4 linked regions of the Homo sapiens genome follow. The protein of the gene in region 2 purifies or fractionates together with the protein of the main gene of each other region. This does not show direct contact. Each region holds a gene or a part of one and is shown on either strand. Other genes may lie near its edges. The genes, in order: CUL2, GLMN, CUL4A and CUL7.

Region 1 (7,024 bases), on a different chromosome or scaffold from region 2:
TTATTTGGAGGTTAAGGGTGCAATGTTTTTTGTTGCACTAAGGTTTGACCCACAGAGCTCTAAGTACTCCATAAACAACATTTCCATCATGACTTTCTGGCTTTAGAATTCCTATTTTTATTTATTTATTTATTTATTTATTTATTTATTTATTTATTTATTTTTGAGACAGGGTCTTGTTCTGTCACCCAGTGCAGTGGTGTGATCCTGGTTCACTGCAGCCTTGACCTCCTGGGCTCAAGTGATCCTCCCGCCTCAGCCTCCTGAGCAGCTGGGACTACAGGCACACACCACTGCACTGAGCTACTTTTTTGTATTTGTAGAGATGGGGTTTCACTATGTTGCCCAGGCTGGTCTTGAACTCCTGAGCTCAAGCTTCCACCAGCCTTGGCCTCCCAAATTACTAGGATTACAGGCGTGTGCCACCGCACCCAGCCTAGAATTTCTAGTAGGTTTTTTACAAAAACAAATGAGTTGGGGAAAAAAGAGTGAACAGACATATGGTGTGTGCCAAAATGTATACTGCAGGAAAACATCTTGAAGTCTCAAAAAGGGTGACACGGTGGGGAGTAGGGAATGTATTCATAATACAATAAGTTACAGAAGCCATTTGCACCCAGGTGTGGTGGCTCACACCTGTAATCCTAGTACTTTGGGAGGCTGAGGTGGGAGGATCACTTGAGCCTGGGAGTTTGAAAACAGCCTTAGCAACATAGACAGACCTGGTCTTTAAAAAAAAATAAAATTATAGTAGCTGGGCCCTCTGGTAACATGCGCCCGCAGGGAGTCCCAGCTACTCAGGAGGCTAAGGTGGGAGCTTGGCTTGAGCAAAGGAGACTTCAAGGTTACATTAAGCTACAATGGCACCACCACACTCCAGCCTGGGCCAAAAGACCAAGATCTTGTCACAAAAAAGCAGCTACCTGCTTCCAAAAATAAACCCACTGCACCAGAATAAAAGACCCCTCTCTGCAATGAACTTTAGACTCCCATAAGACTGCACAGCCTATACTTTGTTTCTTAAGTTTTCACATCGCTCTTATCAGCTTGAAGTTTAACGCCATTTTCACTTGCTTTCTCATTTTTTGTTCAATAATCTAGTCAACGAATTTAAGAAACTGACATTTTTAAAAAAAACTATTCTCATATATGTATCCCCGATCTCAGGTAAATTAGAGAATTTGAATTTCTGAGTCCTTCATGACTAGGCAAGCCCATCGTGTATGAATACTAGACAAAGCTAGAACCAACCAGCCTTTACACAAATTATCAAAACATTGAGAACAAATTTTTTGGCTGTGTGCAGTGGCCCATACCTACAATCCCAGCACTTTGCGAGGCCAAGATGGGCAGACTGCTTGAGCCCAGGAGTTCGCAGCCAACCTGGGCAACATGGTGAACCCCGCCTGTACAAAATACAAACAGATCAGCCAGGTGTGGTGGCATGCACCTGTAGTCCCAGCTACTAGGGAGGCTGGGATGGGAGGATCACTTGAGCCCAAGATGTGACCGCACCACTACAATCTACTGTATTTGCTGACTGCTATATAATACATTAAATCCTGCCTATGTCCTGACACTGCTATAGAAGACACAGGCATGGAAGAATAATTAAAAAGGGGATACAGTTATGGCAGATGCATATCAATTAACCCTCTAGCAACTTTCTTGACACCTCCTGTTTACAATCCCAAAGAGAGCCAGTGAGTTGGATCAAGTTTGTAATCCCAGCATTTTGGGAGGCCAACGTGGGAGGATCACTTGAGCTCAGGAGTTCAAGACCAGCCTGGGAACACAGCAAGACATCATCTTGACTGAAAAAAAAAAAAAATTTGCCTGCAGTGAGTTATGATCACACCACTGCACTCCAGCCTGGGCAACAGAGCCAGACCTTGTCTCTCAAAATAAAAAGTTCCGATATATGCTACGACAAGGATTAACCTTGAAGATATTACGCTAAGTCAAATACACTAGACACAAGGTGAAAAATATCTTATGGTCCTATTTAAACAAAAGTATGTATGTGGGCAAATTCATAAAGACAGAAAGAAGGATGAGATGTTATCAGATGCTGGGGGAAGGGGAAATGGGGAGCTACTGCCTAATGGTTGTACAGTTTCTGTCTAGTAACGAAAAAGTTTTGGAAATGGTGGTTTTGGAAATGGTGGTGAGGGTCACAATGACACTGTAAATGCAGTTAACACCACTAAACTATACCCTTAATGACGGTTAAAATGGTAAATTTTATGTCATGTATGTTTTAAGTGCTTAAAAACTAGATCACAGGTACAAAGTTCTGATGTCAGAGAAGTATCTGAATCTCACTGCAAAATGCTCTCTAAAAATTTTTAAATGGATGCATTCTAATCAAAATAATACTTGGTACTATGATGACAAAATACTATTTTTGGTTCAGACAGACTTTTATCAAATAAAAGAGAAATATCTTGAGATAAAATTTTTCTGAAGGCTCAGGACTACTTGGGGATCTTTCTCTTGATGTCACATTATTCATTATTTTGGTAACTATACACTTACATAATTACAAAGGTATCTTTGGCTGAGCATGGTGGCTCATGCTTGTAATCCCAGCAGTTTGGGAGGCCAAGGCGGGCAGATCACTTGAGGTCAGGAGTTTGAGACCAGCCTGGCCAACATGGTGAAACCCCATCTCTACTAAAAATACAAAAATTAGTCGGTGTGGTGGCAGGTGCCTGTAATCCCAGCTACTCAGGAGGCTGAGGCAGGAGAATCGCTTGAACCCAGGAGGCAAAGGTTGCAGTGAGCCAAGATCGAGCCACTGCACTCCAGCCTGCATGAGAGCAAGACTCCATCTCAAAAAAAAAAAAAAAGAAAGAAAAAGAAAAAAAGAAAGCTATCTTCTATTTCCCACCGTCAGAAAATAGCAGTTATAAATAAAGGGGAAAGGCAAGCATTAATCCTGTGGTAATGAGTTGTAATCAAAGGTATCATTTACAAACTCATGGTTTTGAATACACAAACACACATATACATGCAGATAAAAAGATATAAACATAGATGTTTGTGTATGCATGGTTGAATATACATATATTTCTAGCTCTGTTCACTGAGAAGGGCCTAGGAGGAATGACACCACAGTGGCAATGGGCACACATAGAACTTAGATCTTGGTTTCTAAATATCATTCTCCAAAAAAAGGAACCAGAGCTCCTCCTTGGAAAAGTGATTGATTCCAGGGCTGAAGCAGGAAAAATACAAGTTGAACCTAGAACACCTATGATGTCAGAAAATAGAAGGTGCTTTCCCCCCACAAAGAGGGTGGGGGCATATCGAAAGGACACAAGTTAAACTAAAGGTCAAAACTGGAACAAATCAGAGCAACAAAATAATGAATGATAGGATTAGATTATAAACCATAGGCGGGTCACAGTGACTCATGCCTGCTGTAATCCCAACACTTTGGGAAACCAAGGCAAGAGGACTGCTTGAGCCAAGGAGTTCAAAACCAGCCTGGAGCATAGCCTGTACTTTCTCTCCTTCAACTGAATTAAAACAAGGCTGAGATATTTTTAAAAATTTACATATGGCAAATCCATGTTTCATTCTTTGAAAAGCAACCTACAATAGAGAAAGACTAAGTCACTGAATTAATAGATGTAACTAACATTATTTATAATGTTAAACTATATAAAAGAGGCCAGGCACAGTGGCTCACACCTGTAATCCCAGCACCTTGGAAGGCCAAAGAGGGCGGATCTCTTGAGGTCAGGAGTTCAAGACCAGCCTGGTCAACATGGCAAAACCCTATCTCTACTAAAAATATAAAAATTAGTCAGGTGTGGTGGCAGACACCTATAGTCCCAGCTACTTGGGAGGCTGAGGCAGGAGAATCACTTGAACCCAGGAGGCAGAGGTTGCAGTGAGCTGAGATCGCGCCACTGCACTACAGCTTGGGTGACGAGTGAAACTCTGTCTCAAACAAGCAAACAAGACACAGTATCAGTCTGAATTTTTAATTCTCCAGAATAACAAAGCTTAAAGCAAAAGGAAATATTCCACCTCTCCTCCTCCAAAAGAAAAATCAACAGGGTTCAAGGCACCCCGGAAGTTTCTACAGATCCAACACCACAATCTTAACCTAACACTACTACTGTCTCAAAACTTTTAAGAATCAAAGGGATTGTCTCCAATAAGCCTTTCCCAATGAAAAGCCAAATATAAAGTACTGATATAGAAATCTATACATTCTTAAAGGTAACCCAAAGATTATGCTAACTGCAATATGACAGATACGTTACCAGTAAGATTCAAACCCAGGCACAGAGCCAAATCACTCTGAATAGATATTGTGATTAACTGATTACTGAGAGAGGGTTCAGTCATACATCTCATAGATCAATAACTTGTTATAAATCTCATAACATTCCAAATCGCTGCTTGTTTTTCCAAGATTTAACATGAGCCAGTCATAAGTCCTCATAATATTAAGATTCTAGGGCTGATCCTGTCATCAATTTACTTAAAAACAACTGATAGTTGGACAGGCCTGGTGGCTCACACTTGTAATCCCAGCACTTTGGTAAGCCGAGGCAAGTGAATCATGAGGTCAGGAGTTCAAGACCAGCCTGGCCAACATGGTGAAACCCCGTCTCTACTAAAAATACAAAAAAATTAGCTGGGGGTGGTGGTGGGCGCCTGTAATCCCAGTTACTTGGGAAGCTGAGGCAGGAGAGTCTCTTAAATGCCAGAGGCGGAGAATGCAGTCAGCCGAGATTGTGCCACTGCACTCCAGCCTGGGTGACAGTGTGAGACTCCATCTCAAAAAATAATAATAATAAAAAATAACTGGCTGGGTGTGGTGGCTCACACCTGTAATCCCAGCACTCTGGGAGGCTGAGGCAGGCAGATCACAAGGTCAGGAGATTGAGACCATCCTGGCTAACACAGTGAAACCCCGTCTCTACTAAAAAAATACAAAAAATTAGCCAGGCATGGTGGCGGCTGCCTGTAGTCCCAGCTACTTTGGAGACTGAGGCAGGAGAATGGCGTAGACCCAGGAGGCAGAGCTTGCAGTGAGCTGAGATCGCGCCACTGCGCTCCAGCCTGGGCGACAAAGCGAGACACCGTCCCAAAAAAAAATAAAAATAAAAATAACTGTTAGGGCCAGGCGCGGTGTGGCTCACACCTGTAATCCCAGCACTTTGGGACACTGAGGAAGGCGGACCACAAGGTCAGGAGATCAAGACCATCCTGGCTAACACGGTGAAACTCCATCTCTATGAAAAATACAAAAAATTAGCCGGGCATGGTGGCAGGCGCCTGTAGTCCCAGCTACTCGGGAGGCTGAGGCAGAATGGTGTGAACCCGGGAACCAGAGACACAGCCAGACTCTGTCTCAAAAAAAAAAAAAAAAAAAAAACTGATAGTGCATATGAAACATTGCTTTCAATCACAGCCAGACATTTTTCCAGAATACACAAAGAACAGGCAGATAAGGTAGAACACAAAACAAACAGTGCAAACTTTTGTAAAGTCTCACAAAAAGAAACAGCTTTTTACAGCGAGGGAGGAAGGGCATAAGGGTTGAAAAACGGTTGGGTACTATGTTCAGCACCTGAGTGACGGGATCATTGTATCCTAAACCTCAGCATCACACAATATACCCGGGTAACAAACCTACGTGTGTACCTCCTGAATCTAAAATGAAAGTTGAAAAAGATAAAAATAAAGAAACAAGCAGCCTGGCCAACATAGTGAAACCTTGTCTCTACTAAAAATACAAAAATTAGCTGAGAGTGGTGGAGGGCGCCTGTAGTCCCAGCTCGGGAAGTGGAGGCTGCAGTGGGCTGAGATTGAGCCCCTGCACTCCAGACTGAGAGACTCTGTCTCAAAAAAAAAAAAGAAACAAGAAACAAGGCCGGGCACAGTGGATCACGCCTGTAATCCTAACACTTAGGGAGGCTGAGGTGGGAGAATTGTTTGAGCCCAGGAGTTCGAGACCAGCCTGGGCAACACAATGAAACTCTCTTAGTTCTGTCACCCAGGCTGGAGTATAGTGGCTCACTGCAGCCTCCACCTCCTGGGTTCAAGTAATCCTCTCACCTCAACCTCCCTAGCAGCTGGGATTACAGGCCTGCACCACCACACCTGGCTAATTTCTGTATTTTTTGTACAGACAGGGTTCGCCATGTTGCCCAAGCTGGTCTCAAGCTGCTGGGCTCAAGTGATCCACCCACCTCAACCTCCCAAAGTGCTGGGATTACAGGCCTGAGCCACCGTACGTGGCCGGAAACAGCTTTTTAAACAACTCCACACCTGTAGGTCAAAAACTTAACGAGACCAGCCTGGCCAACATGGTGAAGCCCCATCTCTACTAAAAATACAAACTCCAGCCTGGGTGACAGAGCGAACACCATCTCAAAATAAATAAATAAATAAATAAATGAACTTAACAAGGGCAGGGACCAAATCAGAAAATGCTGCAGTACTCCACAGTTTTATCCTCTTTCTACATTCTCTGTGTTCTCATCCTATTTCATAACTTAACTACTATTTAACACTCTAAAAAATACAAATGTCAAAGTAAAGTGTACTACTGTTTCTGCAAAGTGGGAACAATATTTGCTTATATGTCCACAAATATTTTTTTCCAAGGAGATCTAAGAAACAGCTAACAATGTTTGGCTCCAAGGAAAGCTGGATGACAAGGGTACAAGAAGTGGAGGGAGATTTTCATTCTATTCCCTACTGACAATTTTATATTTTGGTTTTCTGTTTGTTTTAGAGACAGGGTCTCACTCTGTCACTCAGGCTGGAGTGCAGTGGTGCAATCACAGATCACTGCCACTTCCAACCTGGTCATCTGGCCTCAGCTTCCCAACAGCGGGTACTACAGGCGTGCGCCACCACGCCTGGCTAATGTTTTTTAAATTATTTTTTGTAGACATGGGGTCTCACCATGTTGCCCAGACTAACATCTTAAATTTTGAGCCATGTGAATACAGTTTTTGTTCAAAACATTAGTATACCAATAAATAAATGC
Region 2 (7,740 bases):
TTCTGAGGCATGAGGAAGAAGTGATGCTATAGCTATACACAAGCTAAATGACAACAGTATCTTTTATTTTTGAAAAAGTATTATTTAAAAAATTAACTAAATCACAAAATAATAAAATATAATTTTACCTATTTTTTAAAGCATAATCTTTAAAAACAAAGTATTTCAAAAGTGTCATTGTTACTGCAGAACACAGTTTGTGCAAAATTTTCCTACTTCTGAAAAATCTGTACAGAGTGGTGAGGTGATGGTTATAAGCTAACATCAAATATTTTCCTTTGACATCTTCATGATCAAATAATTTTGATTCTTGTTCATAACTTTGAGATCTTTTAACAAGTTTTTCTGTTTTCACAGAGACAGAAATACTTTTTATTGAGAGTGATGTAAGTTTTATGTTTCAAATGAAGCATATTTGCCTTTGTCTTTTCTGGTGTCATCAAATATGCAGATTCTGATGCAGTTACCTGTGTCAATAAAAATATGAATTGTCATGTTCATATTCCTGTTTAGAAAAAGATCTATCAACTACACTAAGAAGTGTTTTTGTAATAGAAGCTTTGAGTTTTAATTTGCCCTCTTAAGGATTACAAAAATATAAAGAGAAATTTCCATTCAAAATTTTAATGTAGTAAAGCTGTTTCAAAATTTTTTTATTCTCAAATTTTTATTTAGACAGGGTCTCGCTGTGTTGTCCAGACTGGTCTCAAACTCCTGGGCTCAAGCGATCCTACCGCCTTGGCTTCCCAAAGTGCTGGGATTACAGGTATGAGCCATCGTGCCTGGCCAAAAAAAAATTAATGCGGGCCGAGAGCAGTGGCTCATGCCTGTAATCCCAGCACTTTGGGAGGCCGACGCGGGCGGATCACGAGGTTAGGAAATCGAGACCATCCTGGCTAACACAGTGAAATCCCATCTCTACTAAAAATACAAAAAAATTAGCCGGGCGTAATGGTGGGCGCCCAGTCCCAGCTACTCGGGAGGCTGAGGCAGGAGAATGGCGTGAACACGGGAGGCGGAGCTTGCAGTGAGCAGAGATCCCGCCACTGCACTCCAGCCTGGGCGACAGAGTGAGGCTCCGTCTCAAAAAAAAAAAAAAAAAAAAAAAAAAAAATTTAATGCGGAATTTAATTCTCCCGTTTTATGTTGAGTCATAAATGAGCTGTATTTCAGGTTTTTGAAATAAGAAAATTGATGAAATTACATTGACAAAAATAATATTCTTCTGTTACTTAAAATAACACAACACAGAATATAGAAAACTGGAATTGCAATCATTAGAACAAATTGAAGAAAATCAAGTGATATTAGCAGACTGGTTAAAAGAACTATGACTAAGGGTAAAATATATTTGCTTTTTCTTTTTTTTTTTTTCTCCCCCATCCTCATTTTTCTTTTTTCCCATTTATTATTTATATACTTATTTTGAGACAGAGTCTCACTCTTGTTGCCCAGACTGGAGTGCAGTGGTGTGATCTCAGCTCACTGCAACGTCTGCCTCCTGAGTTCAAGTGATTCTCATGCCTCAGCCTCCTGAGCAGCTGGGATTACAGGCATGAGCCACACCTGGCTAATTTTGTATTTTTAGTAGAAACGAGGTTTCACCATGTTGGCCAGGCTGGTCTCGAACTCCTGACCTCAAGTGATCCGCCTGCCTTAGCCTCCCAAAGTGCTGGGATTACATGAGCCATTGTGCCTGGCCTCTTTTGCTTTTTAATTGACAATAATAATTGTATATATTTGTGGGGTAGTATGTGATGTTTTAACACATGTATACATTGAGCAAATCAGGCTAATTAACATATCTATCACCTCACATATTTATCATTTCTTTGTGGTGAGAACATTTGAAATCCACTCTTATTAATTTTGAAATATACATTACGTGTCATCACCTTGTTACGTACTTATTTTTCATTAGTGCATTTTAAAGTCATTATACAAGGAATGCATGATAGTTGTTTATTTTTAAATGCATGAATTATATGGATTGTTATCTGCATCTAATGACTCAGAACAAATTCAAAGATTCTAATAATGCAAAGAAGTTTCATGCTGCACAGATTTAAAGATGTTATACTACAAAACTAATAATTTGTCAACTTAACACATACACACTCCATTAGGAACTCTTCTGTAATATTCTCCTCTAAAAGCTGTTCAACAATATGTAGAGCTTTTCTCTCAAATTCAATCTTCTTTCTCACAGCTGCTTCTAGTTCAGCTTTCCTAAAATTTGAAAGAGAAACTTAATCTACTTAAAAGCTTCATGTCCAACATTCCATGTTTTAAAATACAATACTAACCTAACTCACTATTTTGCCACTTAAATTTAAATATATTTAAAAAATTTTTTGAATAAAAATATTTATTTCTTTTTAATTGTAGAGACAAGGTCTCACTATGTTGCTCAAACTGGTCTCGAGCTCCTGGCCTCAAGCAACACTCCCACCTCAGCCTCCCAAAGTGCTGGGATCACCGGCATAAGCCACCACATCCGGCCAAATTTCTGTTTTCTAATGCTGTTACTTTTGATCCAATACTTTTCAAAAAGGAAACAAGCTACTTTTTGCACTGCACATACATAAGTCTTTATATACTCTTTGTATGGTTAATGTCTACTTAGCACGCAGGTCTCAGCATAAGGCTTTCGCTGAAAACTCACAGCCAACCTCCCTGCCACCCACCTCCAACTAAATTAGACTTCGTTATTCCTTCTCGTAACATCACAGTCTTTTCCTTCATAGTGCTTATCACAATTTGTAATTATGTATTTGTTTATGTTAATTAACTAATTAATTTATTATTATTTATTCCTCTGTTCCACTAGGCAAGAACTGTGTCTATTCTGTTCACCATATCTTCAGAGCCTAACACAGGTCCGACATATCTTATACTCAATAAATAATTTTTGAAAGAATGAGTAAATTAAGACCAAAGCCAATATAAGATTAGTGAGTCTTCACAAAATAAAAATCATAGCTACATATGCTTTTAATCCCCTTCACATTCTACTCCTCTTCTAGAAACTCTGTGTGATATGTGGTAATATCTTGCCTTTTTAGAACCAGAACTAGTACAAGACAGCTTTTTAATGAAAATCTGGACTTGATGTAACAAAGAACAGAAAAGGTTTCTTGGAGTGACAGCGAAACTTGGAGAGTGAGTCTCTGGCATATAAAGCAATAAAAGGAGAGTGTACCTGAAGCGGTGAAAAACAAACACCTTCTACAGACACTCATTCCTTCACTAGCAGTCTGAGTGCTTAGTTTGGTTTTCTTAAAGCCTGGAGTAGAGGAATGTAACAGTCTATGTGAGAATTTATAGGCCTTCCCAGATCTTTCCCTTCCCTCTCATGATAATTTTCTCTAAAAAAAAAAAGGTAACCATTATTGTTTTAAAATTGGTACAAGTAATACAAGATAAGTAGATATGCCAATGTAGTTGTCCATGTAGCTGTCATACCTTTTAGAAGCATCTTCTTGTTTCAAAGTACTTGTCTGTTTAGTACCTACAATAAAAATACAGTCATGTGCTACATAATGACATTTCCGTAAACGACGGACAGCATACAGACAGCGGTCTCATAAGATTAAAATACTGTATTTTTACTGTACCTTTTCTATGTTTAGATATACAGTTGCCTACAGTACTTAGTACAGTAACATGCTGTGCAGGTTTGTAGCCTGGGAGCAATAGGCTGTACCATATAGCCTAGTGTGTAAGTAGGCTGTACCATCTAGGTTTGTGTAAGTGCACTCGATGATGGTCACACAAGGATGAAATCGACTAACAACTTATTTCTCAAAATGCATCCCCGCAGTTAAGCTACACATGGTGGCAGTAGGTCAGGTCTACACAAACACATTAGGTACAAGATAGATTCCTACACAAATAACAAACTGTAGACCACCTTTTCTTCTTTTCCACATATTTTATGTCCAATCGTGTGTAAATCAAAATGAAATAGGAAGGGAGAGCAATTTGTTTTTGCAAATTGATTACTGTCTAATTTTTCTTGGTTAAAATGTATCTCTTTGGGGATTGAATTTTCTTCTGTATCATAGTTGCTTAATTAACCACTCCTGAAAATCTGAGATCTGGGTACTTTTAGGGGAAACCTCTCTCCGTCTGCCAAACGTCCTCTCTGGGGGAAGAGGGGAGTCCGGCACCTTAAAGAACTGGGCACCCAAGCAATCTGGAAAGGAGGACCGGTCCTAGGTTCAAGGCCAGCTGCCAACGCTGCCCTAGTCACTTGCCCCGAAACCCGGGGACCCCAGGCCTGGGTTCCCGGGGCCTCCACTGTCCTTTGTCTCAGAGGCTGGGGCCACAGTCCGCGTGAGGGAAATCTTGGAACACTGGCGTAAAGGGGTGAGGGGCGGCCAGGAAATCTTTCCCAGGAGGTGCGGACGGCGGTGGGAAGCTTTCGGCCTACTCTACCTGGGAGAACCCCTCCCCTGAAGCAGCCTTTCAGGAGCGCCCGCGCGCTGCGGTCTATAACTCGAGATCGGGGCCCAGCTTTCAGGGTCCAAAAGTGGGAAGAGATCCTTGCTCCTACCTGCGGCTTTTCGAGAGCAGCGGGGAGCCCCGGCCTTGCGGCCGGCAGAAGACGGCCCAGCGAAGTCCGCCATGGGGGAGAGTAGTCTGCCGGACGGGGACACGCTCCGGCGTCTCGCCCCGAGGCCCCGCCTCCCTACGCGTAGCGCGGGGCGGGGCCAGAAGAGCGGGCTAAGACGCCGGAGGAGGTGGCGGCGGCTGGGAGAGGCGAGGGTTCTGGCCGGTAAGTGGAGTTGTGGAGAGGTTCAGGGTGGCCAGGGCTCGCGGTTGGCCGTGAGCCGCGGCGGACTTGGTGCTGCGGGCCGACTAGGCCACGCGAGGTGGTGGAGCCTGCCCACCTAGGCGAGCAGGAATCGGAAGACATGGCTTCCTCTGATGCAGCCCGCACGCGCGCTGGGGTGTTCACTCGCCTTCCAGCGCGCTGCCCTGAGGACCGGGCTGACTCGCGCCCCTACTGAGGGCTTGGGGCCGAGCCTTGCCGCCAGGAGAAGCGATGGTCTCCTCCTGAAGGCCGCCGTTGTCTTGTCTCCGTGTGATACAGTGATTTCACTAGCTGGATTGATCACTTTGGGGACTGCAACTCCTAGAGAGAAATGGAATGGAGGGCATCTGAATCTTCACCCCCTATAGATAAGCTTGTGTTGCACCCCAATTTTTGTGAGGTGAGACATTAAAAATGAAAAATCCCCTGATGATTAGAATTTTGATTTCAGGTCCACCTTTTGGAAATTTTTTTTCAGAAAAGAAGTGCTTTGCTTTTTAAAAGCCCTTTAGTTCGTATATGCCTCGCCTCTTGGGAGTGCTCGAGAGGTTTTTTTTGTTTTTTTTTCCTTCAAAGTAGCTTTCAAAACTATGCTCCTAGAAAACTTAAAACATGCAATAAGGGCTTCTAAAAAAACACTTTATTTTCTTAGGCAAACATACTAAGATTCAGTAATAACATTTCAACTTTAAAACTTTACATTTTCTCCTAGCATGCTATTGGACCAAAAAACACAACAACAAAAACTTTCCATTTTCTTTATTGTATTTACTAATAATTTATCACACTGAAACATAACTTTTGAATACTTAAGTGTAATATCACGGATAGTTAACAGTGTGTTTTGTATTTGTAGATTTTAGCATCGAAACTAGGAGAAATAAGAATGGCTGTAGAGGAACTTCAGTCTATAATAAAGAGATGTGTAAGTATTAATTTTTGTAAAATTAAATACCTTTCAAAATATGGGAAGGGCACAGATTGTTTTTAATTATATTTGTGGTCACTCAAATTGTTTATCTTCTTTAATCCTTGCTTTTTTTGACCTGTAAAGAGCATGAGTGGGGGAGGCAGATTGGATTATTTCTCCAGGTGACATACTTATCTAAATAACCTTTTACATTTTAATCCTGATCCTTTTCATAGATTTCACTGGTACAGTAGATTTCAAGGTCACTTATTAAAGTATTTATTAGGGTAATCCTAATTTTGATACGTGTGTTATTTACGTTACATTTATCTAGAATTTAAACAGATTTCCTTTTTTCATAGATAAATCAAGAAGTTATTGTATTTAATTTTTATTTGCATATACTTTTTTTTGTTTGTTTTTTGGGTTTTTTTTTTTTTTGCCAGCAAATCCTAGAAGAGCAAGACTTTAAAGAAGAGGATTTTGGCCTATTTCAGTTAGCTGGGCAAAGATGCATAGAAGAAGGGCACACAGACCAGCTATTAGAAATTATTCAAAATGAAAAGAATAAGGTGCGTACAATCTTGGTGTTTACTTTTCAGTCTTGGGAAGAGAATAATCACATGATGCTATTCATCCAGTCATTTATCCATCAAACATTTAAGAATCTACTTAAATTTTCACAGTAGGGAACTGAAAACAAAAAAAGAATTAGAAATATTTAGGCCAGGCGCAGTGGCTCACGTTCGTAATCACAGCGTTATGGGAGGCCAAGGCAGGCAGATCACTTGAGCCCAGGAGTTTGAGACCAGCCTGGGCAACAGAGTAAGACCCTGTCTCAGAAAAAAAAAAAAAAAAAAGAAAAGAAACAGTCATATACTTGAAGGTTTTTACCATCTGGTCAAACATAAACATGTAAACAACTAACAATAATGAGGCAAAATAAATAATTGCTATAGTTGAAGTAAAGAGTTTTTAGAAGAAACAGAATTACTTCTGGTTTAGGGAGTCCAAAAATGGTGTTTGAGTCATTAATTTACAATGAGAAATATACATATCAAGCAGGCTAAATATTCATTTTGGGTGATCAGCCCATTCTCCTCCAGCCAAATGTGTATGGAAAACCAAATTTTAATTAAAACAGTATTTTATGTGCATAGAATCAGAACAGGAGGAAAACGATATGTCATTATACTAGCCAGTATCATCCAGTTACAATGGTTTGAGAAATCATCCTCCACAATGGAAAAGGATCTTATTTGTGGATCAGGAATAACTTTTTCCTGGGACACTGTGTTGGCAACATCCTGCCAAATTTTGTGTCTTTGGATACTCCTTATAAGGAAGACGGCTATGGTTTGGCTCTGTGTCCCCACCCAGATCTCACCTTGAATTGTAATAATCCCTGTGTGTCAAGGATGGGACCAGGTGGAGGTGATTGAATCATGGGGGTGGTTTCCCCATGCTTCTCATGATAGGGAGTGAGTTCTCACCAGGTCTGATGGTTTTATAACCATCTGGCATTTCCCCTGTTGGCACTCAGTCCCTCTCCTGCTGCCCTGTGAAGAGGTGCCTTCCGCCATGATTGTTAAGTTTCCTGAGGCCTCCCTAGCCATGTGGAACTGCATGTCAATTAAACCTCTTTTCTTTCTAAATTACCCAGGCTTGGGTATTTTTTCATAGCAGCATGAGAACAGACTAATACAAAGACCATCTTCCTTCTAGGTACACACTCTTTCTTCATTTGCAGTGCTACTTATTTATTAGAAGTTTTCTTTCTTGATATCACAGTGTAATCATGTTGATCTGTGTTTCTCTCCAGGGCATCTTGATTGGATTTGGGGGATTCCTAAAACTTTTTAATCATATATTATTATAACATCTCTTAGTCAGTAGTTCAAATGGCTTATACCCTTCTTATTTTTTATTAAAATAGGACATTTTATTTAGTTTTTGATACATGTTTATGATAACTTTGTAACCTCCAATATAATAAATCTTATGTTTTTTA
Region 3 (7,024 bases), on a different chromosome or scaffold from region 2:
AAGCCAATCACAGATACTTAACGTGTTATTGCATAACATTTTGGAAATGACAAAATTTAGAAATGGAGGATAGATGAAAAGTTACCAGGGTGTAGGGATGGGGCAGGGTGTGTGGTTATAAAAGGCCCCAGGAGGTAGCCTTCTGCGGGAACAGTCGGGGTTTCGGCCGAGGTCTAGATGTGCACACCCAGATGAGTTACGAGTAAACTGGGCCATGTGAAAAAGACGGGTGCGCTGCCATGTCAGTACCCCAGCTGAGACACTGTTGTGTAGTTTCGCAAACCGTTGCCATTGGAGGAAACTGTGGAAATAAAGACACTGGGATTGCTTTGCTATTTTTACTATTATGCAAATCTGTCATTATCTGAATAAAGATTTCCGTTAAATAAAAAAGATAAAGCTTACATGCTGCTTTATGGAATAATCAGACCTGAAGTCATGTATCAGTCCAGCTGTGGAAAGCCAGCACTCACAGCACCCCTCCCCACAAGGTCTCGTACAATGATAGAATTGGAACTTATAACTGAGTCACACTAAATTGGCCATAAAGCTACTGAAGATTTAGGTTTTTTGCCAGTGAGACAGTCTTCAGGGGATGGGAATGTGTGCTAAAAACTAGGAAAAGTTCACCTTTGCAGTTTCCAGTCTGGGTAATAAAAATCAGTGAGTGACCATCACCCCTGAGTGTCAGCAATAAGTAGTTATACTGTAACAAAATAGTAGTTTATATTCAACTCCACATGCCGTTATCAAAATAAAGCTGGGCCTTGTAGTGTATGTGCATTATTTCAAAATGCAGTTAGCACCAAAGGGTGTAGAGTAAGAGGTAAGTCCCTCCCACACCTGCTAGCCACACACCGCCCCTCTCTGGGAGAGTCTGTGCCCTTTCTGTTGGCATCTTTTTTTTTTTTTTTTTTTTTGAGGTGGAGTCTCACTCTGTCATCCAGGCTGGAGTGTAGTGGCGTGATCTCAGCTCACTGCAACCTCTGCCTCCTGGGTTCAAGCAGTTCCCTGCCTCAGCCTCCTGAGTAGCTGGGATTACAGGCTCCCGCCACCACACCTGGCCAATTTTTGTATTTTTAGTAGAGATGGGGTTTCACCATATTGTCCAAGCTGGTCTTGGAACTCCAGACCTTGTGATCCACCCGCCTTAGCCTCCCAAAGTGCTGGGATTACAAGCGTGAGCCACTGCGCCCAGCCTTCTCTTGGCATCTTTCCACCAGCCAGCTACCTCGCGTGTGTGTGTGATGTGTGAGTGCACATGTGCATTCTATTGAGACGAATTTTTTAAATCCAATCATTGTATTCAGTTCCTCTTCGGCATATATAGTTTATATCATCAAATGTTAACTGTTTATTAGTGCCCTACACAGACTTTTAGGAATGTTTAATATAACAGTTTTAAATTAAAAATACAAACTAGGCTAGGCACAGTGGCTCACGCTTGTAATCCCACCACTTTGGGAGGCCAAGGCAGGCAGATCATGAAGTCAAGAGATCAAGACCATCCTGGCCAACATGGTGAAACCCCGTCTCTAGCTGGGCGTGGTGGTGTGCACCTGTAGTCCCAGCTACATGGGAGGCGGAGGTTGCAGTGAGCCGAGATCACGCCACTGCACTCCAGCCTGGTGACAAAGCGAGAGTCCATCTCAAAACAAAAAAAAAAAAGTACAAACTAAAAAAGTGAGCTTTTCATGGTTAGAAGTGATGGAGAAGGAAAACTAGCCAAGAAGTCCCAAGAGGTATATTGAATTAATAGGAATTAACTTGTCTTGGAGGAACTTACACATAAACATTCTTTAAAAAGCAACGGACATTTTCCAGTCGTTTGTAAGTTCTCTCAGAAACAGAATCGTAAGACCAATGCATTAATTGTGTATTTAATTGTATATTCACACCAAGCACAGGGGCTCATGCCTGTAAACCCAGCACTTTGGGAAATCACAGTGGGAGGATTGCTTGAGGCCAGGAGTTCGAGACCAGCCTGGGCAACATGACCCCGTCTCTACAAAACTTTAAAAAGATGGGCCAGATGTGGTGGCCTGAGCCTGTAGCACCAGCTACTCAGGAGGCTGAGGTGGGAGGATTGCTTGAGCTTGGGAGGTTGAGGCTGCAGTGAACCGTGATTGCACCACCGCACTCCAGCCTCGGCCGCAGAGTGAGGGCCTGCCTCAAAAAAAAGTGTATTCACTTAATTTTTGAAATGTGAATTCAATTTGTGAAACTTTTAAAGTTATTGAGTATTTACTACTAAGAGTAATTTATGTTAAACTATCCTGATTATATGATAGCAGGAGAAGATACTGTTTGCTATTGTAAACATGTTGCTGAGTTGGTATTGATTTGCTTTTGTAGACTTTTGGAACAGCGATCGTAATCAATCCTGAGAAAGACAAAGACATGGTCCAAGACCTGTTGGACTTCAAGGACAAGGTGGACCACGTGATCGAGGTCTGCTTCCAGAAGAATGAGCGGTTCGTCAACCTGATGAAGGAGTCCTTTGAGACGTTCATCAACAAGAGACCCAACAAGCCTGCAGAACTGATCGGTAGAAAAATATTTGTTTTTTTTGTTTGTTTGTTTTTGAGACAGTCTCACCCATTTCTAGACAATTTTTTAATATGGGAAAATAAGGCAAAATCAACCAAAATGTTCAAGCTGCTCAAGGGGTGTGTGGAAAGCGTTTTTATCAAGTCTTATTAGGACACAAATTTAAAAACCGACACACCTGCATGCATGGGTGGAGGAGGGCATTTCCATAAGGGAAGATGAGGTAAGAATTTAGAAAAGAAATGATGCTTGACTTCGCCAAAGAAGGGAGGGGTGATCACCATCTTTGTATCCTCTAATCCATATTAAAATAGGATAAAACCAGATGAGATCTCAAATGATAATACTATTTTTAAGCTGTACAATTTTTTCACAATAATATCAAAATATATTTCAGAATTCATAGGCTTTCTCTAGTCAGTAAAATTTTTTTTTTAATTCGAAGGAGAAAGGGGGCAAAGAGAGCTGAAATACGACGATACTAGATTGACTGTTGATTACTGCTGAAGATGTAAGATGGAACATGGAGCTCATTGTGCAATTGTCTGCTTTTCTGTGTGTTCAGAATATTCCATTACAAAATGTTTAAAAGAAAAAAACTAACAAAAACAGCAACAGAAGGAATTCAGGAGGCAGTTTACTTTGGCTTTTGTTCCTCTGTATCATTTGTGGTTTCTCTAAAGCAAAGGGATGTTGAGCTCTTGGGAGTTTGGGCTTCTGGAAGTCTTGGGTTCTCCCATCACATGGGGACTTTGGTCCTCCCTCCCAAGCCACCTGACGATGGCTTGTGCAGCCTCAGAAACAGGAAGCCCGAGTAGAAATGCTTTCACCCTGCGTTGCCACCTTGGATGCTCTGAGAAAGTCTTTCTCTTTGAGAATGTCTCCTCTGCATTCATGACACCAGATCCTAGAAATAGGCACTCCAGCGTCCGGGGCAGTCACGTCCTGAAACCTGAGCATGTATTTGCTGAAGTCATTTTATTTTGAAATTCAGAGATTGCATTTAAAGATAAGAAAGATATTTAAACCTGCTTTAAACATTCAGTCCTGGCTTCATTAAAATTTTGGCAAGTATTTACTCTCACTTGACTTGAGAAGTACTTACCTTAGAAAATCAGATATTTGTTTTTTTGTCATATAGTCATTTTGGGAAGGTTCCAGAATGTTCCTGTACAATGTTGCTAATAGAAATTGAAGATGCTCTCTTTTTCTAGTTTAGAGTATTTACTATATGTTTATGCTCACAGCAAAGCATGTGGATTCAAAGTTAAGAGCAGGCAACAAAGAAGCCACAGACGAGGAGCTGGAGCGGACGTTGGACAAGATCATGATCCTGTTCAGGTTTATCCACGGTGAGACTCGGGCACTCAGAAAATGCTGCATAATCAAGAGGTGTAAACAGGCCCTGCTTTCCCAGAGGAGGTTTAGCATGAGAATGTCAGTATCAGTAGAGCCAGTTTGCATTAGAATGAACACTTTTCATCCTTGCTAACATGGTGAAACCCCGTCTCTACTAAAAATACAAAACATTAGCCAGGCGTGGTGGCAGGCGCCTGTAGTCCCACCTACTTGGGAGGCTGAGGCAGAGAATGGCGTGAACGCGGGAGGCGGAGCTTGCAGTGAGCCGAGATCGCGCCACTGCACTCCAGCCTGGGCAACAGAGCAAGACTCTGTCTCAAAAAAAAAAAAAAACACTTTTAAGGGTTTTCAGCAGTTGAAGTTTGAAGTTTAACATTTGCTTATCAACTCTCTGATGTCTTGATTATTCTCGTCTGGTTATAAATAGGTAAAGATGTCTTTGAAGCATTTTATAAAAAAGATTTGGCAAAAAGACTCCTTGTTGGGAAAAGTGCCTCAGTCGATGCTGAAAAGTCTATGTTGTCAAAGCTCAAGCATGGTAAGTATGTGGGGCCTGGGCTCCTCCCCTGTAACTGAGGGTTGCTGCCCCGTGTGTTACCCCGATCTCACTCCCTCCTTTGCTGTGTCCAGAGTGCGGTGCAGCCTTCACCAGCAAGCTGGAAGGCATGTTCAAGGACATGGAGCTTTCGAAGGACATCATGGTTCATTTCAAGCAGGTGAGTTGTGTTTCTTAGGTAAAGCGGCTTTTTAAAAAGTATCTGTTAGTGTGGTGGCTCATGCCTGTAATCCCAGCACTTTGGGAGGCAGAGGCAAGAGACGTTCTTGAGGCCAGAAGTTCAAAACTACCCTGATCAACATAGCAAGACCCAGTCTCTACAAAAGAAAAATTTTTTTAATGAACAGGTAGTCCTAGCTACTGGGGTAGGGCTGAAGTGAGAAGATCACTTGAGCCCAGGAGTTTGAGGCTGCAGTGAGCCGTGACTGCACCACTGCGCTCCAGCCTGGGCAACAGAGTGAGACCTTGTCGTGGATGGGTGGATAGATAGATAATACATAGACAGAGATAGCAGTACCTTGTCATAGATAGATAAATAGATAAGGTAGGTAGATTCAATAGATTAGATAGAATGAATCTCACTCTATGTAAGAAGAAAATTACACTATTAACGTTTCACAAGTAAATTTTAAAAGAAGAAAAAGAAGATCTAAACGTGTGGCAAGAATTTTATTTCAGTGAGTCTGGTGGTGACACCTGAAGAAGGGAAAAAGGCAGTCCTAGTGAGGCATTGGGTTTCATGGAATACATTCTGGGGACTGAGATAAATTCTAACACAGATGAAACTTTATATTGAAAATTACACGGTTTATTTTGTTTTAGGTTAATTATGTTTTATTACTTTCTCAAAATGATTGTCTTGGATTTCTCTGTTTTAGCATATGCAGAATCAGAGTGACTCAGGCCCTATAGACCTCACAGTGAACATACTCACAATGGGCTACTGGCCAACATACACGCCCATGGAAGTGCACTTAACCCCAGAAGTAAGTGTGCAGAAAGCATGCTGTCCGCTCCCGCTGTCATGCCCTTACCAGGCACAGATATGTTGCCTTCAAGAATTGTTGAATGGGGAGTTTTTAAAAATAGCCCACTCAGTCCAAAATCAAAGTGCTCTTATGGTCTTTGGAAATGTGCTTGAGAAAGTGACCACTTTTGTCACCTTCTGTGGCTCCTCCCAGTGCAGCCTGTGTCCACCTGCTGACCTGCAGGGGGCCCATGAGCACAGGCACTTGTTTTGGAAGTTATGGCTTATTAAGCTGCGGTTCTTGTCTGGTTGTTCTTTCTTTCCATTGTAGACAGTGCTGAAGTCTTGGGAATGGCATTATTTAGGGCCTTCTTTGTCAGCCACTACTTTAGCTACACTAAACCCTTCAGTGGAGGGTTTGCACGCCGGAGGTAGAATTCTGTGCTCAATGAAGTTAACATCAGCAGGAGATACAATACATGCACCATTCATTTAATACCAGGCGAAGGGAAAGGGCTGAGACCAGCCTGCAATCATGGAAGACTTCCTGGAAAAGGCGTCCCTTAAGCCTGATATCAAGTAAAGATGAATGATGATTTCGTCAGCTGAGAAGGGAAGAAAGACACACAGCTACAGTGGTAGGACAGTGTGATTCCTTTTCTTATCCATCATGAGGGTCATGGCCAATGCTCCTTTAACAAAAGACAAATTAGGAGGAGAAAACCTTAACAAATTTATTTAATCAAAGTTTTATTTAACACATCAGGCTTCAGAAATGAAGACCAAAGACCCAGGGAAGACTGTCCATTGTTATGCTTAGGTTTGATAAAGAATGGGCAGCCATGTAGAAATAGGTGTGTTAGTCTGTTTTGCATTGCTGTAAAGGAATACCTGGGGCTGGGTAATTTGTAAAGAAAAGAGTTTTCATTGGCTCATGGTTCTGCAGGCTATACAAGCATGGCACCTGTGTCTGTGCAACTTCTGATGAGGTCCCAGGAAGCTTTTACTCAAGGTTGAAGGCAAAGGGGGAGTAGGCGAGAGAGAGGGCGCAACAGGTGGTGGGGGAAGGTCCCAGACTCCTTAACAATCAGATCTCGTGGTAACTCATTACCACAGGGAGGGCGCCAGGCCATTCATGAGGGATCCACCCCCATGACCCAAACACCTCCCACCAGGCCCCACCTCCAGCACTGCAGATCACAGTTCACCGTGAGATTTAGAGGGGACAGACCCCCAAACTCTTATCAATGTGACTGGACAGAAGGGTACCATCTAACAGTAGTAGAGTAGCGGGGAAACCAGTAAGGCCTGTCTGTTCAGATTCTTCTTGGCCTCACTGGGCAATGTTCTTTCCTCCCAGGTGTAGGGCAGGACACCTCTGGAACAAGAGTCTTATGACTTAACTATCAGCAAGGTAGTTCAGAGAACTTCTTAATATCCAGATCCTACACAAAAGGGCATGGGAAGCATCGAGTAGTATCTCCAGGCTTTATGGCTGGCTTTGGGCAAGAGGGGTTTGAGTTTTCTCTGGCCTGCCTTGGGGAAGAAGAGTTCTCATTCCAGGAGAACTTTGGGGGAGAAGGTGAGTGAGA
Region 4 (6,759 bases), on a different chromosome or scaffold from region 2:
CCTTCATCATGTCAGTCTTACTTAGGGAAGGCACCAAGGAACCACATTCACTGTTGGCAATGGTGGCCAAAATAGAGACTCACTGGCAATGCCTTCATTCACCACGTCAAATGCTTCCATACCTGTTACTTGTCGCAGTCCCACAGTGACTGGGCCAGTTCCACAAACGAGGAGAATTAAACCCTGCTCGATAATCTGCCCAAGTTACAAACCATCTGGTGAGTGGCCAAGTTGGGCTTGGATCTCCAGCCTGCCAGATGAAAGCACTTCTGACCACACACCCTCTGAGAAGGGGCTGAGTGCCATCATCCTGCCTGGTCCTCTCAATCTCTGCCTAGAGGGGGTGCTAAGTCACACCTGACTCCCTCTGCCTTTCTCCCAGTCTACCATCCTCACCCTAACAAGACCCTTGGCATATCATGCGACAGCCTCAGTGCCAAGGGCTCCTTCTCCACCAGCAAGGAAAACCCTCCCACCTCCCCACTCAAATCTCTAGCAGTCGCCAAACACACACGTCATATAATCAAACTCTTGGGTTTTATTTCTGTAAAAGCTCCAGCTCTACCTTCCCCTGACCCCAAGTCTAGGGCTACCGGAAGGTAGAGAAGCTCTGGGTGGCAGTGCAGGAGGCATAGGGCACACCCCGGGAGCGAATCTGTAGGGTATGGAAGGTGAGGGGTGGGTTGGGGCCTGAGGAGCCTGGGTTCAGGGACTCAGTGTGAGGCTCCATGACAGTCACAGGGACTGCATAGGACAGCACCTGGGGCCGGTCGTCATGGCGTCTCAGCGTGCCCTTGCCCAGGAGGTGTAGGATGCAGGAGAGGACGTCAGTGCTGCTGCATGCAGACCCCTTACCAAGGCTGCTGACCAAACCCCTGGGAGGACACGGGCCCTTCTGCCAAGCCTCCAGCACCTGGTGTGGGGGAGGAAGGGAGAAGCGGTAGTTTAGAGGCAGCTGACCCCTCCTTGCTTGAGCTTCCACTCCAACCACCAGCTGCTAGGACAGGATGCCCCAAGGACACGAGGTACATCCCGACCTCACTCCTCACACTCCTACAGGCTACACAGTGAACCAGGTGCCTCACCACACGTGCACCCACCTTGTCCTGTAGACTGCTCCCCCAACCCCAGCAAAGATCTGTCACCCATTGTGCCCACCCCTGCCTACCAGACAGACAAGCTGGTCAATGTGCAGCCCCTCATCTCCATGGGCCTTGAGGATTCGGACGATGAGGCAGTTCAGAAGATTCCGTCTCTTCTCCAAGTTCTGGCCGTCTTCACCCTCAGCTTGCAGGTACGTCTGAGGTGGGATGAGCCGCACAATGTCCCATCTCGACCTGGGTTCCTTGCTGCCATCTCGAATCTTGAGGACCCCTGAAATAAATGCTGATCACTCACTCAGTGGAGAGCCCACGAGGAGCCTGGCCCTGCCTCAGAGCAGAGGCCCCTCTGGCCCTAAGTGCATACCTCCTGGTATATCCTTTTGCTCGTGAAGGTCCAGGGGGCCTCTTGAAGAGGTGAGGGGCCCAATCGCCTGATTGAGCATGTCTGCGGAGAGCCCTGAGAACGCCAGCAGACTCTCCACAGAGACCGCCTTCAGAGAACAGATGGGAGACATTCAGGGCCTCCCCAAGGAGTGGAGAGAAGAGGATGGAGGGAAGAAGCAGAGGGAGTCAAGGTTTTGGGAAGAGAGGCAAGGGACAAAGTGGGAGACAGGAGAGAGGTGCAGCGGGGCTGGGCCACCTTCAGGTCGTTGAGATACAGCAGTAGCCACATCTGCACGGTGGACACATGCAGGGTCTGGTTCCCAAACTGCAGCTCAGCCCAGCCCAGCCACGTCCACTGCAGTCGCCTCTGTGAGCCTCGCTCAAGGGCAGGGTGGCTCTGACCTGGACCAGGAAGGGGGAGGGAGACAAAGAGCAGGTGAAAGGAGGGAGTTGGTGTTGGAGGGAGGGTGCACGCTGGTCACGCTCTGTTTATCTCTGCAAGGCGTGTGACCCCAGCATTTATGGACACTGGGGCTTCTGGTCTGAGCTTCCAGATCTCAGCCTTCTCTGGGCCTGCCTCTATGGCAAGCCTCAGGATCTGGGAGCTATCCTATGCCTAGCCTGGTGCCAAGCAGGTTCTCATCAGTGCCTTCGAGGATTGCCCCATGTGTTTTTAGGGAGACAAAACCATGAAGGGAGGAAGGACTGGGGCTCTTATCAAGCTGGAATATTATGACAGGAAACAATGTCTCCCCTATTAGGAGGCGCCCTGACCACAGGTCTGAGCCTCTTCCCCCTCCTGTGTTGCTGCCAGCTCAGGGATCAGCCCCCGATGGGGAGTTTAGGATGACAGGTGACTGACCAGAAAAGAGCCAGACACCTACTCATATCTGGTGGCCTCAGGTGCCTCCTGCCTCCATCCTCCCCGTCACCCACAAAGAGATTCCCAGGTCTTATTTTAGAACAGAAAAAGCAATGGTCTGGGGATCAGGTATCTGACAGCACCTGCCACCCCCAGCCACCAAGCTCCTGCCCTTTGTTCTCAAAACCACTGTTTTTCCCATGGCCTAGGGAATTCTTATCCCTAAAGACTATCTCTCCCTGAATCTATAAAAACAAAAATTAAAAATGTAAATTAAAAGACCAACTCTTTTTTTTTTTTTTTTTTTTTTTTGAGATGGAGTCTCGCTGTCGCCCAGGCTAGAGTGCAGTGGCACGATCTCGGCTCACTGCAACATCTGCCTGTGGGTTGAAGTGATTCTCCTGCCTCAGCCTCCCGAGTAGCTGGGACTACAGGCACACACCACCACACCCGGCTAATTTCTGTATTTTTAGCAGAGACGAGGTTTCACCATGTTGGCCAAGGCTGGTCTTGAACTCCTGACCTCAAGTGATCTGCCTGCCTCGGCCTCCCAAAGTGCTGGGATTACAGGCGTGAGCACTGTGCCCAGCCAAAGACTATCTCTTTTTACATCAAGCCTCCCAACATCAGGGTCTGCCCCCAACCCCAGGTCCTTTCCTAGCAGCCCACCCTCTCCCCAGTCCCCAGTCCCTCTGCCTGGCTGCTCACTCTTGTTGTAGAAGTTGGAGTATCTGTTCAAAGTGCCCCTCAGGTAGGAGGGCAGGCAGGTTCTGGGGTTCAGTGTGTGGCAGATTGAGGCAACAGGCCAGGAGTGTCGGGACAGGACAAGCACAGACACTTCTGGCATTGCCCCTTCATAGTAGAGGTCCTCATTCTCCTCCTCTTCCTCCTCTCCCTCCGCCACATCCACCACTGCTGCTGCCCCAGCTTCCTCTTCCTTCTCGCTCTTGTGCTCCTTGCCACTGGCCCCAAGGCCCACCTGAAGGAGCACAGGGTTCCCAGATGCCATGGCCTCCTCCAGTCTGCTCCACGCCCCTCTTCCCCCTACCCTCTTATTTGCTTATCCCTTCCAAGGCACTCACCTGTATTTTCTTCTCTGTATCCTCCAGCTTCAGGAGTTCCTGATCCAGCTGCTGGAGCTGGTAGACGTGGAACTGGCGCTGCAGCTCCTTAGAGGTGCTCAGGCTCTGCAACATCTGCTGGGGGAGGCGGTTGGGGAAGCAGGGACCGATCTGCTCCAGCACGGCCCCCTCCAGCCAGCTCGAGACCACGCCCAGGAGACGGTCCGCCATGTAGTGCCTGCAGTGCATGCAGCCCGGGCCAAGCCTCAGTGTGGGCACCAGTGTGGCCCAGCCTCCCACTCCAAGGCTCCAGCCTGCCTCTATCCCAGACTTCCAGGCCCATGAGCTGGCTCTGCCACCATCATCCTGCCTCCCGCCAGCTCCCGCTCCTTAGGTCCACACTCACTGGTAATAATGCTCAAAAGTGGTGGCTATCTCCAAGCCGGAGAAAATCAGGACAGCTTGCAGGCATTGCTGCAGCTGTGCCAGCCTCTCCATTTCCTGGGCTCCACCGATCCGGCTGCCCTGGATCTGCTGGTCAATGTGCCGGGCGAACTGCTCACTCACCTGAGCAATGGCAGAGCACAGGAAAGCCATGAATGAGCGAGCAGAGCAGGTGAGTGGGGAGGAGGGATGAGGGTCTGGAAAGTAGATATGAATGCTGGCAGCTTTCTAAGGTGGTTGGTGCTTTCATACAACTATTTTATAAGATCATTAACCATTGTACAAATTAGCAATATTAACAATTATGGAAAGTGTCTTTTCACATTGTGTCTAAAAAATCAAACTAATAATAATCATTCAAAATGAGAAAATAAGACCAGGCGCAGTTCACGCCTGTAATTCCAGCACTTTGGGAGGCTGAGACAGGCAGATGGCTTGAACCCAGGAGTTGGAGACCAGCCTGGGCAACATGGCAAAACCCCATCTCTACTAAAAATACGAAAAAATTAGCTGGGCATGGTGGCACACGCCTATGGTCCCAGCTACCCAGAAGGCTGAGAGGACCACCTGAGCCCAAGAGGTTGAGGCCGCAGTGAGCTGTGACTGCACCACTGCATCCCAGTGTGGGAGGGAGTAAGACCCTGTTAAGAAAGAAGTAAAGAAAGAGAAAGAAAGGGAGAGAAAGAAAAAGAAAGGAGAGGAAAAGAGGGGAGGGAAGGGAAGGGAAAGGAAGGGGAAGGGAAGGGAAGGGGAAGGGAAGGGAAAGGGAAGGGAAGGGAGAGGTGGCTCATGCCTGTAATCCCAACACTTTGGGAGGGTGAGGCGGGCGGATCACGAGGTCAGGAGTTCGAGACCAGCCTGACCAATGTGGTGAAACTCCGTCTCTACTAAAAATACAAAAATTGGCTGGGCGTGGTAGCATGCACCTGTAATCCCAGCTACTTGGGAGGTTGAGGCAGGAGAATCGCTTGAACCTGGGAGGCGGAGGTTGTGGTGAGCTGAGATCGAGCCACTGCACTCCAGCCTGGGCAACAGAGCGAGACTCCGTCTCAAAAAAAAAAAAAAAAAAAAGGAAGAAGAAAGAAAGAGAGAAGGAAAGAAAGAGAAAGAGAGAAAGAGAAGGAGGGAGGGAGGGAGAGAAGGAGGGAGGGAAGGAGGGAAGGAGGGAAGGAAGGAAGGAAGGAAGGCAGGAAGGGAGAAAGAGAGAGAGAAAGAAAGACGGACACAAGGAGGTAAGTTACATACACAAAGATGGTCCTGATGCAGTGTCACTGATAAACTAGGACTGGAGGCTACACAAGGAGCCTCATGTTCCTGCTGCTCTGTACCCTGCTTTCCAGGGTGCTTCTTGCATTTTAGCTCATCAATTGTGGGGGGTTTTTTTGTTTTTTTCTTTTTTTTGAGATGAGTCTAGCTCTGTCACGCAGGCTGGAGTGCAGTGGTGCAATCTCGGCTGACTGCAACTGCAACCTCCACTTCCTGGGTTCAAACGATTCTCCTGCCTCAGCCTCCCAAGTAGCTGGGAATACAGGCATGTGCCACCATGCCTGGCTAATTTTTGTATTTTTAGTAGAGATGGGGTTTGGCCATGTTGGCCAGGCTGGCCTCAAACTCCTGCCCTCAGATGATCTGCCTGCCTCGGCCTCCCAAAGTGCTGGGATTACAGGCATGAGCCACCACACCTGGCCACTATTTATTTTTTTCAATTTTTTAAACTTCTTATAACATGGCTATATACTAACATATGTTCATCATAGAATGGGAATGGAAGGGTGGGTCATTTGGAGGAGGTGAGGAAGGGAGAGTTTGTCGGAAGAGACCCAAGGATGAGGCAAGGGTAGAGGCTTACGTGGGCAGCTTTGAGAAAAGGGAGCTTCAGCAAGGCTCCCGCACAGCCATTTTGCAGCGCCAGCAAGAAGGCTGCCCGAGGCCCAAACAGTTCAGAGCTTGAGTTCTGCAGAATATTAAAGTGCTCACAGTAGCGTGGCACAAAGTCATCATCCCGCCAGGATGAGGTCAGAAAATTGTTCACCTGGAAGGAAGGGGCAGGAGCATGAAGACACAACCCAACATGCCACCATTATGGTGTCCCCTCTCTCCCGCAGGCCTGCTCCTGCCCACCTGCTTCTCCACCACGGCCCGCCAACAGCGCGTCAGGTTTCTCATGATGCTGCTTGGAAGGCCCCGGGTAGCCAAGGAGCTCCAGTCGTGGCTTCTGTTTCTGCCTTCTGTAGAGACCAAGAAAGTGGCAGAGGCAAGGAGGGTGCAGCCCCTCCACTCCCAAGTCCCCATCCAAGGGGGTTCCCTGAGGCCTTTCCTGACATGCTGCCACCCAAAATGATGTTCATGGATGGAGGTGACACAAACCTGGAAGATGAACAGGCTGAGCCCATAGGGAGGGGAAGGATGGGGATGGACAGAAGCCTGTGGTGTACACATGGGGCCCAGGAAAACGCTCCTGACTAGAGCTCCCCACCTGAATCTCCACTACTCACTGGGCCGAGGAGTGGCCACCACAGGAGGGGGTGCCTCACAGGGCTCGACATGCACCAGCAGGTGAGTGAGACGGCGCACCCGCGAGAAGAAAGCTGGGCCGCGGCTCTGGGGGTTGAAGACAGCTTCCTGACACTCCAGGTACTGGTCCAGCAGCCAACCCAGGGGGCTAATGCCATCCTCATCTAGAGGGTGAGATAAACAAACCAAGGCACAGCCATGTCTGCAGGGAAGTGGGAGTGGTTGGGCTGAACAGGAGTGTGGAGATAGAGCAACTGGACGGAATGATACAAGGAAGGGGGGCCAGGTAGGGTGGTTTACGCCTGTAATCCCAGCACTTTGGGAGGCTGAGATGAGAGGATCGCTTGAGGCAGGAGTTCAAGACTGGCCTGGTCAACATAGCAGGACCCCA

What was found.
Region 1: the proteins of GLMN (region 2) and CUL2 purify together in Homo sapiens (co-immunoprecipitation; 5 studies listed by BioGRID and IntAct, with this or other methods). This does not show direct contact.
Region 3: the proteins of GLMN (region 2) and CUL4A purify together in Homo sapiens (affinity purification with mass spectrometry; 6 studies listed by BioGRID and IntAct, with this or other methods). This does not show direct contact.
Region 4: the proteins of GLMN (region 2) and CUL7 purify together in Homo sapiens (affinity purification with mass spectrometry; 5 studies listed by BioGRID and IntAct, with this or other methods). This does not show direct contact.

What each region holds. Positions count from the first base shown.
Region 1 is NC_000010.11:35,080,318-35,087,341, forward strand, and holds part of CUL2 (cullin-2), read right to left. Parts: intron 1-7,024.
Region 2 is NC_000001.11:92,295,965-92,303,704, reverse strand, and holds the start of GLMN (glomulin), read left to right. Parts: upstream 1-4,717; 5' UTR 4,718-4,780; exon of another isoform or gene 4,781-5,150; coding exon of another isoform or gene 5,151-5,219; intron 5,220-5,675; coding exon of another isoform or gene 5,676-5,705; coding exon 5,706-5,744; intron 5,745-6,175; coding exon 6,176-6,301; intron 6,302-7,740. Other genes in the region: putative RNA polymerase II subunit B1 CTD phosphatase RPAP2, read right to left, coding at 2,115-2,229, 3,466-3,511, 4,559-4,631.
Region 3 is NC_000013.11:113,240,613-113,247,636, forward strand, and holds part of CUL4A (cullin-4A), read left to right. Parts: intron 1-2,355; coding exon 2,356-2,548; intron 2,549-3,797; coding exon 3,798-3,902; intron 3,903-4,336; coding exon 4,337-4,447; intron 4,448-4,539; coding exon 4,540-4,625; intron 4,626-5,343; coding exon 5,344-5,451; intron 5,452-7,024. UniProt on the Homo sapiens protein: Core component of multiple cullin-RING-based E3 ubiquitin-protein ligase complexes which mediate the ubiquitination of target proteins. As a scaffold protein may contribute to catalysis through positioning of the substrate and the ubiquitin-conjugating enzyme.
Region 4 is NC_000006.12:43,037,099-43,043,857, forward strand, and holds the end of CUL7 (cullin-7), read right to left. Parts: exon of another isoform or gene 6,533-6,759; coding exon 6,350-6,532; exon of another isoform or gene 6,083-6,349; coding exon 5,976-6,082; exon of another isoform or gene 5,960-5,975; intron 5,887-5,959; coding exon 5,704-5,886; intron 4,027-5,703; exon of another isoform or gene 3,978-4,026; coding exon 3,817-3,977; intron 3,649-3,816; coding exon 3,432-3,648; intron 3,329-3,431; coding exon 3,058-3,328; intron 1,890-3,057; coding exon 1,744-1,889; intron 1,595-1,743; coding exon 1,468-1,594; intron 1,387-1,467; coding exon of another isoform or gene 1,375-1,386; coding exon 1,169-1,374; intron 914-1,168; coding exon 590-913; 3' UTR 519-589; downstream 1-518. UniProt on the Homo sapiens protein: Core component of the 3M and Cul7-RING(FBXW8) complexes, which mediate the ubiquitination and subsequent proteasomal degradation of target proteins. Core component of the 3M complex, a complex required to regulate microtubule dynamics and genome integrity.